2 separate regions of the Homo sapiens genome follow, and region 1 is linked to region 2. Evidence: fine-mapped expression QTL. A gene starts in region 2. The other region holds a variant in brackets. All regions are shown on one strand. Distances are from middle to middle.

What was found.
Region 1: its variant is fine-mapped to the expression of COQ8B in cerebellar hemisphere (GTEx, PIP above 0.99). The same link has a PIP of 0.9 or more in cerebellum.

What each region holds. Positions count from the first base shown.
Region 1 is chr19:40,684,072-40,693,931 of GRCh38, reverse strand. NUMBL (NUMB like endocytic adaptor protein) reads left to right here and starts at 3,281. Exons shown (of 10, transcript NM_004756.5): 1 at 3,281-3,472; 2 at 6,937-7,021; 3 at 9,376-9,515. The coding sequence starts at 3,449. It overlaps COQ8B (coenzyme Q8B), which reads left to right. Exons shown (of 15, transcript NM_024876.4): 14 at 895-981; 15 at 1,559-2,402. The coding sequence ends at 1,897. RefSeq lists silencers at 2,589-2,828, 3,149-3,488 and enhancers at 2,175-3,112, 4,328-4,377, 4,051-4,990, 6,114-6,408. The variant A/G (reference allele first, on the strand shown) is at 4,667.
Region 2 is chr19:40,712,606-40,722,465 of GRCh38, reverse strand. COQ8B (coenzyme Q8B) reads left to right here and starts at 5,580. Exons shown (of 15, transcript NM_024876.4): 1 at 5,580-5,879; 2 at 7,831-7,935; 3 at 8,069-8,188; 4 at 8,333-8,399. The coding sequence starts at 7,834. It overlaps ITPKC (inositol-trisphosphate 3-kinase C), which reads right to left and starts at 5,354. Exons shown (of 7, transcript NM_025194.3): 1 at 4,176-5,354. The coding sequence starts at 5,330. RefSeq lists enhancers at 2,829-3,530, 6,034-6,113 and silencers at 5,104-5,463, 6,784-6,833.

The sequences.
Region 1 (9,860 bases), 29 kb after region 2:
TTAATCCCGAATCCCCCTCCTCACAAAAAAGGGCAACCCAGTAGTGAGTGGTGTGACCCGGTTCCACTCCCTACTCCGGGTCTGCTTCCCCTTCTGTGAAATAGGGACCCCCGTGCCCACCTCTTAATAATGGTAGATTATAGTATTTACGGTGCTTCCTGCATGAGACACAGCGCCAGGCAGGCCACAGGCATCACCTTCTTTATCCTCCCAACAGCCCCATGAGGAAGGCACTTTTGGCATCCCCACTTCACAGATGAGAAAGTGGAGGCCCAACAGGCCGGCAGGTGGCAGAGCTGGGACGGAACCCTAGCCAGCTGGCCCCAGCTGGGCATCTCTCCATGCCCACAACTCCTGCCCTGTGTGTGTGAGCTCATGGCTGGAGAGCTGCTCTGCTCCACACGCTCATTTGCTAAAGCAAGGTTCACCCAGGGCCTCCTCAGCACCAGACCCTGTGCCCCGTGCGACTAAACCCAACTGGGATCCTTGCTCTCACGGGGCTCAAAGTCCAGTGTGGGAGACAGAGAGATGGCCCCTGGCAACTTTGGATGCAGTTCTGGGTCACGCTCATACCCGTCCAGTTGAGTGTTTGGACTCACCAGCAGCCCTGACACTTGTTTCTTGCACTGTTTCACTGTGGCAGTTCCCGGGCAGGCCCCACATTGCCCTCTAGGTGGGCAGGATCCCTAACCACCTCCACTCCCAGGCTCTGGAAGAGTCTTTAAGGGAGTCACAGACAGGCAAAGTTGGGAGCAGGAAGCTTCCAGGTGAGGGAGGGCCCAGGCAGATGAGAATGGAGGTGGGTACATGGGAGGCCCAGGCTTCCAGCTCCTCTTCTCCAGAGCCCCCTTGAGCCCCGGCCTTTGTCCCTCTAACTCCCACCCGTCTCCCCAGGTGGTGAAGGCTGCAGCTGATGGAGACAGAGACTGTGTCCTGCAGAAGTCCAGGGACCTCAAATTCCTCACAGGCTTTGAAACCAAGGTGGGGAGACACTGGGGGAGAAAGGGGCTGGTGTCTGTTGGTGGGGTGCAGTGGGGGGCTGCTTATCTCCACTGAGGAACTCGAGTAGGTGATGGGGCATGTCGATACCCGGGGACTGGGGGACTCTAGGAGGGGCTTGTCTCCACTAGGGAGAATGGAGGCTGTGTGTCTATACCTGGGGAGTGGGTGACTCTAGGAGGGATGCTTATCCATGCTGGGGGCTTTGGGGAGGAGTGGGGGGAGGTGGCTGCCTGACTTCTCAGGAACCCTGGGAACATGGGCACCGTGGATCTGTTCAGGAGGGGCGAAGGCCGCTTCTCTGTTGTAGAGAGAGTAGAGGGCTACTTGTCTGTTGGAGGCTCTGCAGGGAAGTAAGGGGTGCTTACTCGGGGAATAGGCAGCTGCTTGTCTAGTCCAGGCTCTGGAAGGAGTGGAAGCTGCTCACTCTTGGGGGAGTCGGGGCTTGTGTTGATGGTGGAGACTGGAGGGAGTGGAGGCTACACGTTGTTTCTGGGTTATGCAGAGGGCTCTATGTCCACACTGGCTGCCTTTGCTCTCCCCCCACCCCCACTCCCAGGCATTCTCCGACGCCCACGTGGAGGCAGTGATGATCCTGGGGGAGCCTTTCGCCACCCAGGGCCCTTATGACTTTGGGTCGGGGGAAACGGCCCGCCGCATACAGGACCTCATCCCGGTGCTGCTGCGGCACCGGCTGTGTCCCCCACCCGAGGAGACCTATGCCCTGCACCGCAAGCTGGCAGGGGCTTTCCTGGCCTGTGCCCACCTCCGAGCCCACATCGCCTGCAGGGACCTCTTCCAGGACACCTACCACCGCTACTGGGCCAGTCGCCAGCCAGACGCAGCCACTGCCGGCAGCCTCCCCACCAAAGGGGACTCCTGGGTGGATCCCTCATGACAGCCTCCATGGGGGATTCAGTCCCCAGAGCAGGCCGTACCCTGCTGTAGTGCCTCTTATCCCTTCCCCGTCTGCCCTGGGTCAGAGGAGCCCCCTTGGGCTTCCCAGTCTTGCCTGGCTCTCCTCCTTGGCCCAGGAGCTCAGGATCCCTGGGGCTGGGGAACTCCCAACTTCGTGCCCTAGATCCTGCACCTCCCCACTCGAAAGTGGGTATCCGAAAACTAAGCCAGGGAAGCGGTTAACTTATCTTTGCCAACATTTGAGGGAGCCTTGGGCCGCTGCATGTCGTTATGCAGATCAGACTCATCAGGGGGAGCCCTCACCTCTGCCTCAAGCCTCCCGTGGAAGGCGAGATGGTCCTGGAGGCAGTCCTCACCTCTGCCTCCCTCGCTCCTCCAACAGCTGCCTTCTCCCGGGTTCCAGCCTCTCAGTGTGTTGGAGAGGTAGGGGTGCGGGGTGGGGGGGAGCTGAATCTTCAATCGGAATAAAAGCAGCCCTCCCCTTCCCCCAGCTCTTTTCTCTGCGCTAGGGTTGGGGGGAGAGGGGGAGGAGCTCGCCAGCGGCCTCCAGGTGCAGATGGCCAGCCCCCCTGCACCCCCTTGTCTGAAAGCCTCAGCCCTGCCTGTGCCATCTGTTGCCGGGAACCTCCTTCTCGCCTTCCCCACCCCCCCCCACGTGCTGACCACCTGCTCTAAGGGCTGTGGCAGCTGAGGCCTCCCACACACACAGTGCCTCTTGGCTGCGGGCTCCCTCCCCTCACTCCTGGCAACCTCGCCTTTACTAATGGGCTCTAATGTCCCTGCCAGCTGCTTTGCCAAACCCACAGGATTGGCGTAGGGGGCGGCGGGGGCGCCGTAGCGGCCAGAACCGCGCCCTGGTCCCACCCCGGCGCCCCCGTTCCCAAAGCCGAACCGATCGCGCATCAGGACGCCTTGGTCTGTTCACACCCCCTCCCCTTCCTTGCAAAAAGTGCCTCGTCACCGCTCCTGCCCGCCCCCGCCGGGCTGGGGAACCATGGGGTTAGCGGGAAGATTTGGGGGTGTGGGGCGGCAAGGCGCCTCTAGAAGCAACTCTTTCGGACGCGGAGCTGGAGGGGATCTGAGGTCAGGTGTCACGGAGGGAAAGGGAGCCCAGGCCAGGACGGACCGGGGGAAAGGACTCGGCGATGTTCATAGGCATGCTCAGCTCGGGACTGGCCAATGGGCGTGGCGGGGCGGTGGCCGCGCCGGGGAAGGCGGGATGGTGTCTGCGTGTGGGCGGGGTCTTCAGGCCAAGGGGCGGGGCGGGGCGGGACCTTTCTGCATATACGGCAGGCGGCGGGCCAATGGGCGGGGTCGGGGCGGGGAGCCGAGGCCGAGGGACGCTCCCCCGCCCCCGGAACGGAATCCTCCCGGGAGCCGAGGAGGCTCGCGCGCGTGCATCCCGCACCATCCCCCGGCCCCGGGCCCTGGCCGGCGTCAGACCGAGCTGCCGCCGCCACCACCGCAGCAGCAGCAGTCGGGGAGCCAGGCCCAGCCAGGGCCGCGGGAGGCGGGGGCGCCCGGGCCCTGGATGTCCCGCAGCGCGGCGGCCAGCGTGAGAAGGGCGGGAGAGGGGGGCTCGGGTCGGGGGCGGCGCCGCTGCTGATGTGGCGGAGGGTGGGAGGCGGCCGCGGCGCCCGGATGGAGAGAGGGTGCCAAGGCTGGAGAGGGTGGTCCCGGGTGGGGGTCCAGGAACAGGCCCAACAAGCCAAAGCCCAGGAGACCGGGGTCTTGGGCACAGACCCCTGGGCCATCTCTTGCCAAGGCCCTGGAAATAGGGATCCTGGACACAGACCCCCCACAAAACCAAGGACAGGGGTACAGAGATTCTAGGTACAACTCCTAGAACTAGATGGGGATGGAGATGGGGTCGGGGACACAGCCCCCGTATCAAACCAAGGCCTCCAGGACGCGATTCCAGACACAATCCCTACCTCTCCCTGCCTAAGGGGGTCTCAGCACAACAACTGCCTAGGTACGGTCTCGAGGATGGGGTCACTGGGTACAGCGTTCCCACCACGCCAAGGCCTAGGGGGACTCCAAGCACAGCCTGCCCCCAGGTCTCAGAGGCACCCTGGGCACAGCATCCCCCCAATCCTTGGGCGGAGTCCCAGGCACAGCCACTTCTCAAAACAAGGTCCCTGTGCCTGGGACTCCACCCCACCCCAGCCTGAATAAAATAAGGACAATTTCAGGCAACCCCCAATCCCTCCACCCCCTGGCTTGGTCATGGGTCCCAGGGCACAGGATCCCTAGGCCACCCCCTTTGTCCCCAGGGCTGCCCAGCTGTCCAAGAGTGGCCCCACCCGCAGACAATGCACCGCTTCCCCCTCCTGGACCTGGCCCTCAGGCTCCAGGATACAGGCTGGGCTGGGGGCGGCTCCCCAGGGACCGGGTGCAGCCCTGTCTGTCTGCAGTGTCTGCGGTGACGGTGACGGCGGCTTTGTGTGTGGTACCTGGGGGGAAGGGGGGAAGCAAGCGATGGGGAGGTGGCTAGGAGTGTGCCCTGTGTTTGTGTGACTGTGGCTGTGTATGTGTGTGTGTGTGTGCACGCGTACGCTGCAGCTGGTGACTGAGGAATCCTGTGTCGTGTGTGTGTGCTTGTGGTGGTGTCTATGATTGTGTCTGTGACCCTAGTATCTGTGTGACTGTGTATGTGTGTGTGACAGCTGCTCACTGTGCAGAATCCTGTACTTTTTAGTCTGTCTGTGTTTGGAGGTGTGCATGGTTGTGACTGTGGTTGTCTGTG[A/G]TTGTGTCTTTTGTGACCCTGTGTTTGTATGCCTCGGTAACTATAACTGGGTATGTGACAGTATGTGTTGAGTCTGGGGGTGGGCATGCGTGTGACTGACAGGACGTGGGTGGAGTTGTGACTGTGTGTGAGTGGAGTTGTCTATGGCTCCATGTGCATGTGTGACCCTCCCAGTGACTGACAATGTTTATAGTTGTGTCTCTACCTGATTTTATATACGTGAGTGACACACACCTGTCTGTGCAACTCTGCCTGTGTGACTGCCATTGTGTCTGAAGTCACATTGTATCTGTGTGACTGGGGTTGTGTGACAGTATTGTGTATGACAGTGGTTGCGTATGCAGAACCATGTCTGAGTGTGTGACTGAGGTTGTATTAATATAAATGACTGTATCTAGCAGTGTGTGTGATAACGAGTGATTGTGTGTATTTCTAGCCTTGCATGTGTGATTTGGGTTATGTATTTGACTTGGTGTCTGAAACCCTGGCTATTTAGAGGGATTATTTGTGTGTGACTAAAGCTGTGGATGTGTCTCCGTGCTGGTGCCAGGAAATTATGTTTGTAGGGGTGTGTATATGATTATGGCTTCCATATTATTGTGTTTGACCTGCATGTCTGACCCTGGGTGACTATAGATGTCTGTGTCTATGTCATCATCTGTGAGAGTGTGGGGTCTGTAGCTGTGTGCCTGTTTTTGTCTCTGTGTGTATGTGCTGGACTACCTGTGTTAGAATGTGTGATTTGGTGATGAGATTGGCCCCTGACTGTGCACATGGCTCCGTCAGGACCTGTGTCTTCTGTGTAAACCCAGCTATAAATGCCACATCCTGGTCACTGCATTTATGTGCATACACTGGACTGTGTACTTGTGACATGGGAAACTAAAACTGTGTGCTTATGTCTCTATGTGTGAGATATGTGTGTAGGTGGGGCTTGTGACTTTGTGCACCTGTCCACACGGGGCTGTGATTCTATATGGCCACATACTTGTCTGTGTGACTTGTGTGCCTGCATGAAGAAAGGCTATATGTTTCGCTGCATTGGAGTGACATGGTACAGCTGTGTATGGACACTGGGTGACGGGATTATGACCATGATAGGTGGCTGGGTCACATGGACATTGATGCTGTGGCCATGCCTATAGGACCACCATGGCTGTGTCTTGAGGGAGGCCATCCTTGGGGACAGTTGTTTGTGGGTGGTTGCATGCTGTGGCCATCAGTACCTCTGTATGTGGTTGTGTATAGAGGACTGTCCCTATGAGTGTGGCTGTCACAATAGACTGTGTGACTGATGCTGTGACCAGATTTGAGCACCTATGACTGAGTATGTGTGACCACGTGACAGTGTGTGGCCAAAAACAGTGTGTTGGTGTGACTGGTCTGGTTGAGGCTGCATGTGGTCTCCGTGGGACCAAATGTGTGTCTGTCCGTGTGCATCTGTGACCAGATGTCAGTGTGCAGCAGTGGAGATACGTGTAACAAGTGTATATAGCTGCGATTGTGTCGTGTGGGACTGGGTCAGCAAATGGGTGAACTCTGGGTGTGATTCTATCTGGGTGGGCCTGTGACGTCAGTATCTTGGGCGGGTGCCTGAGGAAACATAGCTGTCACTGGGTGTGGCCACGCATGTGCGGCTCTAGTGGGTTGTCTGGGCCCCGTTCTTTGTATGTGGCTGAGAATGTGGAAGTGACCAAATTTCAGTGGGTGGTGTGACCAGGTGTCTGCGGTGGGAACTGAGTGGGCCAGGACATGCTGCATGTATGTGGACAAATGTCTGTAGTAGAGACTGTGTGTGTCCGAACATGAATATGCGGCCAGATGTTTACAGTGGCAGCTTTCTGGGTTTGGGACTGTTTCTGTGTATCTGCGATCTGAGGTGTGTAGCTGTGATTGCGTCTATGTGTAACCAAGTGTGTAAAGCTGTGGCCAGATGCTAGGGACACCTGTAGATATGAGTTGGCTGCGTATGTGTGTAGCCCTGCACATGCATCTGGAGGGCAAGGCCACTCTCACAGCATCCCCTTGGGCAGTGAGGCTCTCCTGAGGCCAGCACATCCCCAACATATGCCCCCCAAACATACCTACTCCTTCCTGGGCCCTTGGAACCAGGTGGCTGATCTCCCTGGTAACAGTTGCTAGGACAACTAGGACTCTCATCAGGGAGCCCAAGATGGAGGGGGCTGGCCGAAGTCCAAAGTCGGGGTGAAGTATCAGACTGAGCCCCAACCCAGACAAACTTCTCACCTTCTCCTCCCCTACTCGGGCAGGGCGGACCCCGGAGGCCTGAGCGGCACCTGCCCCCAGCCCCCTGTGGGGCCCCGGGGCCCCCAGAAACCTGCAGGACGGAGCCAGGTGAGCGACCAGCCTGGGACAGGGCAGGGCTGAATGGGTATGTGGTCTTGCCTAACACGACCAGAGGAGCTGTCCCTGCGGTCACACAGGCTTAATCACACTCATGAGTGGACACCCTCAGGCATCTTCCTCAGCGACTGTCAGAGCCCCACTCATGCACAGACCCACACCCTGACACCCTTACAGCCTCAAGTGCAGAGTCACAAACACTCACATCTGTAGATATACGGTTAGAGACACACACACACACACAGATCTCTTTCAGATCACACACACTTGCTAATGCAGTGACACACTTGAACACATGCTGAAGTAGATGTTCATCACACTAATGTACACACATATATACACACACACACATTCCTAGACAACACCCAGATTCACAGGTGACCACAGACGCTCGCTGGATACAGACTCTGAGATACACACTCTCAAGAGACACACTCTTGGCCGGGCGTGGTGGCTCAATGCCTATAATCCCAGCACTTTGGGAGGCTGAGGCGGGAGGATCACCTGAGGTCAGGAGGTCAGGAGTTCGAGACCAGCCTGACCAACATGGAGAAACTCTGTCTGTACTAAAAATACAAAATTAGCCAGGGGTGGTGGCACATGCCTGTAATCCCAGCTACTTGGGAGGCTGAGGCAGGAGAATCGCTTGAACCTGGGAGGCAGAGGTTGCTGTGAGCTGAGATCATGCCATTGCACTCCAGCCTTCATTCGCAACAAGAGCAAAATTTCGTCTCAAAAAAAAAAAAAAGAGACACACTCTTGCACAGTCTGACAACACACACAGACCCACATTTCTACAGACGACAGCCACACTTTCACAGACAGCACCCGCGGGCCCAGGCTCTCACAGGGAGCTACGGTTGTGTACAAACATGCACACAGTCTCACAAAGAACACCCAGCACTCTCTCAGGCAACAGTCACACCCTTACAAATAACCCTCATGAAAACACTCTCAAAGACAACCTCATGTTCCCACACACCCTAACGGATGCACCACTGCACACAGATACACCCTCTGTGCAATACCCACACACCCACACTCTAAGGCAACAGCCACAGTCACACAGGCTCACCGCCAACAGCTGCACTCTTGGACACAGACAGTCTTGTAGATCCCTCAGATGCACTCTCCGAGGCAATGTCATCACAGACAATAGCCACACCTTCACACAGAGACATAGCTACATGGATAACAGCCATGGACACACCCTTTGAAAGACGACAGCCTCATCTCAAACACAGACACACCCTCACAGGCAACAGGCACTGAGCCACAAGTTCTCATAGACAACAACGGCACTCTCGGATATAGACAGCAGACACACACTCACAACCACTCTCAGACATCGATGCCCTTCAGCAACAACCTTCAGGGCCTCAGACTCACAGACAACAACCACACTTTTGGATGCATCCCTCACGGACAGCATTCACAGATGCACACTATCCTACACCATTCTCAGACATGCGTTCTTCCAGACAGCCTTCAGAAACACACTCACAGACATTACTTGCCTGCTCAGATATAGAGCCCCTCATAGACAGCGTTCCAGAACATACCATTGCACACTTGCTTACACACACACACACACACACATCCCCCTCTGCTGTTGGTGCTCCCAGTCCTGGGACTGTCAGGATGGCTGATCAGTGAAGACTGTCCTAGTGGCTGGCCACCTCCACACCCACTCCACACACCCACAGCCCTGCCTCTGACAGTCATCAGTGCAAGGCCCCAGAAGCCTTGCCTGGGGACTAGACACAGTTGTCACAGAATGGCTGTGTCTCAGAGTTCCAGAGACAAGCCACCATCCCCCATACCCCATGCACCTGACTCCTGCACCCCTGACCCATGCAATTCCCAACTCCTCTGCTGCCCTCTGATCACCCCACTGCCTGACTCTCATACCCCTAAAACCCCTGACCGTGCGGCCCCTGACTTCTATGCCCTCTAGCCCCCATGCCCTCCTACGTCTGATTTCCCACCCTTTGTGTCCTCACGGCCCTGGGAATGAGGAAGCATCCACCACATGGACAAGAAGCCCTCCAATGCCCTGAAGCCTGTGCCCCATACCCCCCACCCCAGACCTCCAGCCCCTTAGCCCCATGGTTCTGAATCCCCAGTGCCCAACTTTCGCACTCCCCTGGCTTCTGTTGGCTCCTTTCCTCACTGTCCCCTGACTTGAGCTGCTGATCCCATGTGCGCTGCCAACTGACCCTGTAACCCCGCTTCCAGTTATCTTGTTATCTGACCCCATGCTCCCTGAGCACTGGTCCCTCCCCGTTGAGCTCCATACCTTCTGACCCCCACCCTTGACCCACATCACTGTCCTGTGTCACCAGACGGGGCGGGCACCATGAACAAGTTACGGCAGAGCCTGCGGCGGAGGAAGCCAGCCTACGTGCCCGAGGCGTCGCGCCCGCACCAGTGGCAGGCAGACGAGGACGCGGTGCGGAAGGGCACGTGCAGCTTCCCGGTCAGGGTGAGTGGGCGCGGCAGGGTGCGGCGGGGCGAGGGGGACGGGGGCCGCTGTGCTGTGCTGTGCGGGTGCGCGGCCTGGCTGGGACACCAGCCCAAGTCGTTTGAAGTTGGTGTTAAAAAGCGTGAGGCCGGCAGTCCTGGCTATCACGGTGAAACCCCGGCTCTACTAGAAATACAACAAATTAGCCTCGCGTGGTGGCGGGCGCCTGTAGTCCCAGCTACTGGGGAGGCTGAGACAGGAGAATCGCTTGAACCCGGGAGGCGGAGATTGCAGTGAGCCGAGATAGCGCCATTGCACTCCAGCCTGGGCGACAGAGCAGACTCTGTTTCAAAAAAAAAAAAAAAA
Region 2 (9,860 bases):
AGGGTTCGGGAAGGGCTAGTCCCTCCCCAATCCAGCTGCCGGCCCTGGGGAAGAGATGATTAATAAAGGTTCCTGTTTACTAAGTACCTGGAACATTCCAGACACAATGACAAAGACTCAGTGTGCCACAACCTACTTAATTTCTAAAAACACAACCCCAGGGAGATTATCGTCTCGGTGTTACAAAGGAGGAAACAGAGGGTCTGAGAGGTGAAGCCACTTACCTAACATCACCCCACACAGCGCTGGGGTTCTAGCTCTGGTTGGATCCCAGTGCCTTGGGGCTTATCCCCTACACACTTGCTGGACTACAAGCTCATGATGGCAGAGACTGGGGTTGTCATGGTTATGATTATGTCCCCAGCACATGGCCTGGCACACGACAGACGCTCCAGAAACATTCTTTGATGCTTGGACTGAAGAATGTTAGTTGGGATTTTTTTAATAGTAATTTTTTTTTTTTTTGAGACAGGATCTCACTCTGTTGCCCAGGCTGGAGTGCAGAGGTGTGATCTTGGCTCACTGCAACCTCTGCCTCCCAGGCTCAAGCAATCCTCCTGCTTTAGCCTCCCGAATAGCTGGAAAACAGGCATATACCACCACATCTAGCTAGTTCTTTTTTCCTTTTAGTAGAGATGAGGTCTCACTGTGTTGCCCAGGGTGGTCTCAAATTTCTGGGCTCAGGCAATCCTCCCACCTCAGCCTCCCAAAGTGCTGGGATTATAGGCATAAGCCACCACACCTGGCCCCTTAATCATAAACATAATATCTTCTCTCTCTGTTTTATGTTAGATCCGGGCCGGGCACAGTGGCTCATGCTTGTAATCCCAGCACTTTGGGAGGCTGAGGTGGGTGGATCACCTGAGGTCAGGAGCTCAGAACCAGCCTGGCCAACATAGTGAAACCCACTCTCTACTAAAAAAAAAAATTAGCCGGGCGTGGTGGCGTGCGCTTGTAGTCCCAGCTACTTGGGAGGCCGAGGCAGGAGAATCACTTGAACCCGGGAGGCTGAGGTTGCAGTGAACTGAGATCTCGCCACTGCACTTCAGCCTAGGCAACAGAGTGAAACTCCGCACTGCACGCCCTCCAAAAAAAAAAAAAAAGTTAGATCCAATGGTTTATCTGGGCTTTCTCGGATTTTTTTCACAATGGTCTCAGCTTATATGCCCCTTCCTCCAGGAAGCCCTCTCTGATACCCTGTGTCTGGCCAGTGACCTCCTTCTGGGCTCACACATCCTCCTGACCACTCTGAACTGTGACTGTCGGCTGATTGGTCTGTCTCTTTCATGGGCCTGGGAGCTCCATGAGTGTCTTGGTCACTGCTGTTTCCCCAGCAAAGCTAACATAGGACCAAATACATGGTAGGGGCTTAGGGAGTGATTTTTGTCTCATTAGAAGAATAGGATAGCACACCTGTAATCCCAGCACTTTGGGAGGCTGAGGCAGGAGGATCACTTGAGCCCAGGAGTTCAAGACCAGCCTGGGCAAGATAGCAAGACCCCATCCCTACCAAAAAAAGAAAAAGAAAGAGAACACAATTTTAAAAAAAGGACAGGATGGTGAGAAGGAAGGAAGGAGGAAAGGGAGAAAGGAAGCTGAGCCTTTACGGTCAGAGAGGATTTCAAAATTAAGGGAGAAGGAAGCACGGGTATGCTGGGCAGTGGGAACGGCTTGAGCAATGCGTGGAGGCAGGACAACAGAAGAGTGTTCAAGGAACAGTGTGTACTCAGGCCTAGTTACAGCAGAGGGGGTCAGGAGGAGGGAAGGAAGTCGATTCTGGGAAGGCGCCTGGAGACCGGAGGCTCCAAACGCAGCACTGAGCCCCTGACTGCTCTCAGAGAGGGCACCTGAGCAGACAAAGCTGGGCCATGGAGGCAGATTCTGGAAGGATGAGAAAAAAACTGGAGATAGGGAGGCCTGGGAGGGAGACAAGTTAGGAACAGATCTACACACTGGAGGGTTTAAACGATGGGTTTGAAACTCAGCCAGAACTGAGTTAGAATCCTGGCTCTGACTTGACGTGGCCAACCCTAAGCAAAGAATCTCTCACCTCTCTATGCCTCAGCTTCCCCATCTGTTGTTTTTGTTTTTTTTTTTTTGAGACCGAGTCTTGCTCTGTCACCCAGGCTGGAGTGCAGTGGTGCAATCTCGGCTCACTGCAACCTCCGCCTCCCACATTCAAGCGATTCTCCTGCCTCAGCCTCCCAAGTAGCTGGGATTACAGGTGCCCGCCATCACACGCCTGGCTAATTTTTGTATTTTAGTAGAGACAGGGTTTCATCATGTTGGCCAGGCTGGTCTTGAACTCCTGACCTTAGGTGATCCCCCTGCCTCGGCCTCCCAAAGTGCTGGGATTACAGGCTTGGGCCACTGAGCCTGGCCCCCATCTGTTGAATGGAGACAATCTCAGTGCTGTCATAAGGACTCAGAGTTAACACATACAAAGCCCTTAATTAAGATAGATGCTATTTTAAGATAAAAAATGACAGAAAAAAATTGACAAAAAAGACTAAAAAAAAAAAAGAAGAAAAAACTTAAAACAGTGTCTGGTGTACAGTAAGGATTAGAATTATTTGATCTGCATCTTGCAAGGTGATATCCTTGGACAAGTGACTTGAATTCTCTGTGCCTCAGTTTCCTCATCTGTAAAAGGGGATAATAATAGTATCTACCTCAGCCGGGTGCAGTGGCTCATGCTGGTAATTCCAGCACTTCGGGAGGCTGAGGCGGGTGGATCACTTGAGGTCAGGAGTCTTGAGGTCAGCCTGGCCAACATGATGAAACCCTGTCTCTACTCAAAATACAGAAATGAGCCAGGTGTGGTGGCGGGCACCTGGTGTCTCACCTACTCAGGAGGCTGAGGCAGGACAATCACTTGAACCCAGGAAGTGAAGGCTGCAGTGAGCCGAGATGGCACCACTGCACTCCAGCCTGGGCAACAGAGCGAGACTGTCTCAGAAAAAAAAAAAAAGTATCTACCTCATTAGGGTTGCTGCGAGGAGTGAGTGAGTTAATAAAAGCACAGCACTTAGCACAGGGCTAAACATGAGTGAGTGCTAATTGTTGTTGTTATTATTATTATTATTATTATTATTATTCACCCACTTCCAGCTCAGCTGTTCTGAGATGCCAAGGAAGTGAGAGGGCAGGCAGAGAGAAAAAAGCAATGGGGCCCAGGAGGGTCAGCCCCTGCACACAGGCACAGGCACGTCAAGGCAGGTCTGTCTCTCACAGCTAGGGCCACATGTGTGAACACGTCCCCAAGGAAGGCATGTGGGGTGAAGCGGGGCTCAGGGCAGACTCCAGCCAGGGGCCCCAGAGCAAAAAGAGGCCTCAGCAGGCAAGCTGGCAAGCTGATGGACTCCGGACTCGGCTCCCAGCCCCACGGCTCCCAGCCCCACGTGAGGCTCTCCAGTTTCACACCGGCCTCTGCTCTGTCCCGCCCTCCCTGAACCTGCCCGGCCGGTCCTCCTGATTCACCAGGGGAGAGCCACACCCAAGCTGGGGGTGACGGTGGACAAAGTAAACAAGAGTGTTCAGGGGGCTCCTTGGGGATGTAGGGGTCACAGGGGAGACCAGGTGGGCTCCCGGCTAGGCCAAGGATCCTTTGGCGTTTGGGGTCACACAGCCCTTTTGCGAATCTGATGCAAGCTGGGGGAATCGCTTTGCTCCCTAGAAAAATGTACATACAAATAGGCTAAGGGGTGGTGAAGGTTTGTGACCCTTTAAGACAGCCACAGGCCCCAGATTAAGAAATGTGGGGTAGAAAGTGCACCCTGCCTGTCTCCCTATCCCAGTGTTCTTCAGATTCCAGAGGATTAGACAGATGTCAGACCGTCGCTGCAACAATGTATGTGAACACGCACGGCAGGCTCCTTAGTCCTACAATTTCAGGGGTTCCTGGGCCCCATAAAGTCGGTCAGTGGCCCTCCATTGTAGACCCCCAGGAGTGGAGACAGTGCAGGAAGGGGAAAGGAGAGAATTAAGAAGGGGTGCCTGGAGTGAATTAGTAACCTGGCTGTCAGAGGGAGGAGGTCAGTGGATGGAAGAGGTTCCCGGAGATGAAATTGCTGGTGGGCAACTAACAGTAAATGGGTAGAGAACTTCCTAAGCAAAGGCGGAGGAATAAGGAGTTTTGCGTGATGTGGCTCAAGGGCAGGATGGGTCCCACTCACCCCAGACCTGTCCTCGGGATCGCTGGCACCTCCGCCCCCGGCCACCACGTCATCCTCAGACTCGTCGAAAGAAGAGGCAGAGGAGAAGCCGCCGCTGCCCCCCTCAACCCGGGAGGGGGGTCCCACTGGCTGGGCCTCAGGCTCAGGGGTCTCAGGGGTAATGATGAGGCGGGGCACAGGGCACAGGGGGCTACACTTCAGGTGAGAGTACAGGTGAGTCAGCAATTCTCCAGGCTCTGGTTCCTCTAATGGGCCATCCTCAGGCTCTCCCAAGAGGCAGTCTGTCCCAGGTGCTGTCTGGGAACCGTCAGTGCTAGGTTGTGTCCAGGAGCCATCAGTATCCTGTTGTATTTGGAAACCACCAGTGCCAGGCTGTTTCCTGGCTGCTTCAGTATCCTGTTTTTTCTGGGAGCCATCAGTATATGGCTCTGTCCAGGGACCTTCAATATCCTGTTGTGTCCTGGAGCCATCAGTATACAATTCTTTCCAGGAGCCATCAGCACTTGGCTCTTTTGAGGGACAGGCTCCTTCTGGGTGAGTCTGGAGGCTGGAACTGTTCTGGTGGGTCCAGAGGTTATCAGCCCAGGACTTGACCCTCTCTGGCTGAGTCTGTGACCCATGCGTTTCCAGCTCTGTCCAGGGCCCATGAACCCCTGGCTGTGTCCAGGGGCTGGCCTCCTCGGGCTGAAACTGGAGGTCGGACCTGTGCGGATCAGTCCAAAGGCCATCTGTCCCGGTCTCCGTCCAAAGACAAGTCGTCTCCAGCTCTGACCAGCTCCATTCTAGATGCGTCCGGAGGCTGGACCTGTCTGGCTCCGTCTTTTGCTTGGGCCTCTCGGTCTCTACTCCAAGGCCAGCTGCCGCGGGCTCAGTCTGTCCGTCTGTCCAGAATTCTGCCTGCGGACTCTCTGTCCCCGGCGCAGGCCCGAGGCCGGCCCTCTCAGGCTCGCTGTGGAGGCTGGACCCCTCTGTCCGGGCCCAGGGCCCGCCCCCCTCCGGCCGCCCCGCCGGGGCCCCTGCGCCGGGCCCAGGTCGCTGCTGTCCCGGCTGCCGCCGCCGCCCTCCTCGCGGCGCCTCCAGTCCCATGCGGGCCGCCGCGGGCAGCGCCCCGGCCTCCGCCTCGTTCAGGCTCCCACGGCACGGGCAGCGCCTCATGCCCGCTCCTTCGGTTCGGGCTTCGGCCGACCCGGCCCCTCCTATCCCTTTAAATCCCGCGAGGGGTGTGGCTGGGGAGCCCCGACTCCCGGGTTCCGGCCCGCGGAGCTCCAGCCCGCCCCGCCGCGCAAGGGTTAACCGATACTCCCCTCAAAGGGGAAAGCCCCGAAGCCCCGCCCCACCGGACGTGACGGAACGGAACGAGACGGAGCCTTGTCCGACTCCGCCTCCCAAGGGGAGGGGGTTTGCCTCTGAGCATCCGAAGCGCGGCCAGGTATGCATCTAGGGCACCGGGGTCCTGGTGGCGCGCCAGTGGGCCCCCTCCCTCCACCCCTGTGACTAAACCACCCTCCCTACACGGTTGAATGACAAGTTCAACCTTCCCTAAAACCCCCGGTGACGAGTCCAGCCGCGCGCCCATTCTTCACGCAGGGGCGGGACGGACTTTCAAAGACTTGGAGTTCCCACGGGTGTGGGTTCGAGACCTTCCTCTGCCAGTTCCCAGCTCCGCTACCCTGAGCAAATGACTTACGCTCCATTGGATTTTCCGTAAGAAATCTCTGTCATGTATAGAGTACTTGTTCTGTATCAGACCCTGACACGATTTCAGTTCATTCTCCAAGGCTGAACAATAGGGATGCCAGGGCTCCATTTTACACGTGAGAACAGAGGCTCAGAGATCTGCCGGCCTCTACCCTTTGCTTGCAGCTACGGGGCTATCTGACATGATCTCATGTATGTGAAGCATGTGGCCCCGGGCCTGGCACTGTCAGTTGTAGCCCAGTAGGATTATTTATTGTCCTAGGTGATTTTGATATATTTTGCCCCCAAGGCTGAGCTGCCACCCAGCTCCTGAGTCAGCCGTTCACCTCTGAAGGGGGAGAGGAGGTGGTTTGTCTTGAAATTGAGTCAACTGGGGGAGACATTGGGCACAGGTCCAAGGCTCTAAAATGAGTCACCTTTTCACAGACCAATGAGAGAAATCGAAGGCAGGAGCCCACCTAGTACCTCATACAGGTTGGGAAGGAGAAGTCCAGAGAGGGATGAGGGCTTTTCTGAGGTCACACAGTACGGGAATAGAGACAAAGAGGCCTGATTCCCGACAAGAGGGGTTGGGGCAGCGGGGTTCTGTGGGGGAAGCATCGGCATCCCTCCCTCTCCCAGTGGTGGGAAAGATGCCCCAACCAGATGCCTCTATTCCAGACTGTGAGAAGTGGGTGAGTCAGCCTGTTGTGGGGAGAGCAGGCTTTCCAACGCGCGCGCGCACACACACACACACACACACACACAGAGAAAGAAAGATAGGATGGGAGGTGGTTTTCTGGGATGCCAAGGTTCCTGACTCAGCACTGGGAATCTTGGCTGAGTGTGTTCTGGGAAATGTCAGGCCTACAGGAAGCAGAGGGCTCCCAGTCGCACCATTCCGCAGGTGGGCGGGGAGCGGAGAGAACAGGGTGTGTGAGGGAACAGAGACTCAGTGTGCAAGTGGGGGGGAGGGTATGTACACGAGAGAGTTGAAGGCGTGAGCGGGAAACAGTTGGCAAGCAAGGCAAGGGATTTATATGCACAAGGAAGGAGGTTGGGTGCCAGAATGTGGGTGTTTGTGCAAAGTGGAGGGGCTCCATGTGCAAGGGAAATGTTTGCTGGGAAGAATGTGTATTCAAAGGAATTGTGTTGAGCCTGCCAGGGGTAAAAATAAGAAGGGGGGTTGGCAAGATATTCGTGCAGAAGAGAGGCGTCAGGTTTGTAAGGGAGACTTTGCAAGAAAGTGTAGGGAACAGAAGGGTCTGTCGCGTACAAGGCACTTTGAGGTGAGTGGAAGGGCAGACAGGGCACGCTTGCGCTCCCGCGATGCCTCAGCAATCCCCCCAGATGGGCCCCCGATGCCCACCTTAATTCCAGGCTCCATCGCTAGGGCCTCTCTCTGGCCCCTTCCCCCGCGCACAGATGGAGAAACTCCGTGCCAGTCAGCGAGTTGCTGCCGCGCCATTGGTTGGCTGGCCGAAGGGGGCGGGCATACAGAGGCTCCCGGAAGCACAGGAGGGCCCCAGCAGGTTGCGGACTCGGAGGCTGAGAGCAGTGGGTGCTTAGCAACGGGGGGAGGTGCTCAGTAACGGGGTGGGGATCGGGCGGGGGGACACCGGAGGAATTGCGGGTGCCTACAGGGCCAACAGAGGGGAAGGCGGTGCATAGCAACGAGGGGGGTTTCAGAGAAGTGGAGAGGTAGCCCCTGAGGAACTGTGGGTGTCTAGTAACGGGGGCGGACCCTAGCAACGGCGAGGGTTGGGAGAGGGGGGAAAGTGGGTTTTGGGAGGCCTGCAGGAAGAGCTAAGGGTTCCTAGCAACCAGGGGAGAACCAGGAGAAACTGTGGGAATCTATTAATAGTGGAGGAAGTATTTAGTGGGTGGGAATGAGAGAGGGTGGACACAGAGGAACATGGGGGCCTGGCCAAGAAGCCAGGCAACTCCCACCTGAATAATCCCTCCTCTTCTCCTCCAGGCAATGTGGCTGAAGGTGGGGGGCCTACTTCGGGGGACCGGTGGACAGCTGGGCCAGACTGTTGGTTGGCCTTGTGGGGCCCTGGGGCCTGGGCCCCACCGCTGGGTAAGAGGCTAGGGAGCAGGTCCCCAAGGGGAAGAGGCTGAGGGAGACTTCAGAGGGTAAAAGGACAGGAGGGGTCCAGAAGGGCCAGGTGATCCCATGTCCTCCCCTCCTTATCAAAGTATATCTCTTGCAGGGACCATGTGGAGGTTCTTGGGCCCAAAAGTTTTACCAGGATGGGCCTGGGAGAGGCCTGGGTGAGGAGGACATTCGCAGGGCACGGGAGGCCCGTCCCAGGAAGACACCCCGGCCCCAGGTATCATTACCCCCACCCACCCAGCAACACCCCACGAATACTGCTGGCCCCCTGAGCTTGGGGAAGGGTGTGGTGGCAGAGTGGCTGCACTCTCTGGCCACGATGCCCACTTTCCCACCCTCAGACCTTGTCCCCATTTCCCAGCTGAGTGACCGCTCTCGAGAACGCAAGGTGCCTGCCTCCCGCATCAGCCGCTTGGCCAACTTTGGGGGTAGGTGTGACTTTGGGGGATCTTGGTGTGACCTCAATTAGAAAGGGCAACATTTACAGATTGAAGCAAGGGAGAGGATGAATCAGAGACAGGAAAGAGAGAGAGACAAAAAAAGAGAGACAAAGGCAAGGGCCTGCAAGGCCAAGAGAAATCAAGAGGAACATAAATGATAATTTTTTTTTTTTTTTTTGAGACAGAGTCTCACTTTGTCACCCAGGCTGGAGTGCAGTGGCGCGATCACTGCAGCCTCAAACTTCTGGGCTCAAGCAATTCTCTCGCCTCAGCCTCCTGAGTAGCTGGGACCACAGTTGTGCACCATCCGCCCGGGTAATTTTTTTTTTTTTTTCCTTTGAGACAGAGTCTCGCTCTGTTGCCCAGGCTGGAGTGCAGTGGCACCGTCTTGGCTCATTGCAACCTCTGCCTCCTACATTCAAGCAATTCTCCTGCCACAGCCTCCTGAGTAGCTGGGATTACAGGTGCCTGCCACTATGCCTGGCTATTTTTTTTTTTTTTTTTTTGAGACGGAGTATCCCTCTGTCACCCAGGCTGGAGTGCAGTGGCGCCATCTTGGCTCACTGCAACCTCCACCTCCCGGGTTCAAGCCGATTCTCCTGCCTCACACTCCCAAGTAGCTGGGATTACAGGCATGCATCCACCACACCCGGCTAATTTTTGTATTTTTAGTAGAGACGGGGTTTCACCATGTTTGTCAGGCAGTGGTAGAGCTTTGGCACCAGGCTGCCCAGGGTTCAAGGGATGACTCTGCTATGTCCTCGCTTTGTGATCCGCCTGCCTCAGCCTTCCCAAGTGCTGGGATTACAGGCGTGAGCCACCACACCTGGCCGCCTGGCTAATTTTTGTACTTTTAGTAGAGACAGAATTTCACCATGTTGGCCAGGCTGGTCTTGAACTCCTGACCTCAAGTGATCCACCCACTTCGGCCTCCCAAAGTGTTGGGATTTACAGATGTGAGCCACGGTGCCCGGGAAGCCACTGTGCCTGGCCTGGGTAATTTAAAAAATATTTTTTTGTAGAGATAGGGTCTCCCTATGTTGCTCAAGTTGGTCTCAAGCGATCCTCCTGCCTCGGCCTCCCGAAGTGCTGGGGTTCTAGGCATGAGCCACTGCTCCTGGCCATAATAACATTTACTGAGAACCTGTAATGTGCAGTGTCCCATATACACACATGCTGCACTGAATCAATGAGTGTTCTATTCCGTACATGAGGACATTGAGGCTAACAAAGGGGAGGTCACTTGACTTTGGGTTACACAGCCGGATGTCGTGCAAGTCACATGAAATAATTTAGTGGGTTGCAACCAGCATTTAAAAAGAAGAATAGGACAGAAAATATGCATGCACCTGTAGAGCAAGGGAAAGTCTTGTTTCGTGAAACATATACCTTGGTCTGCACTGGTTATAACGTAAATGTCTTCTTATTGCTGATCATGGTTCAAGTTTT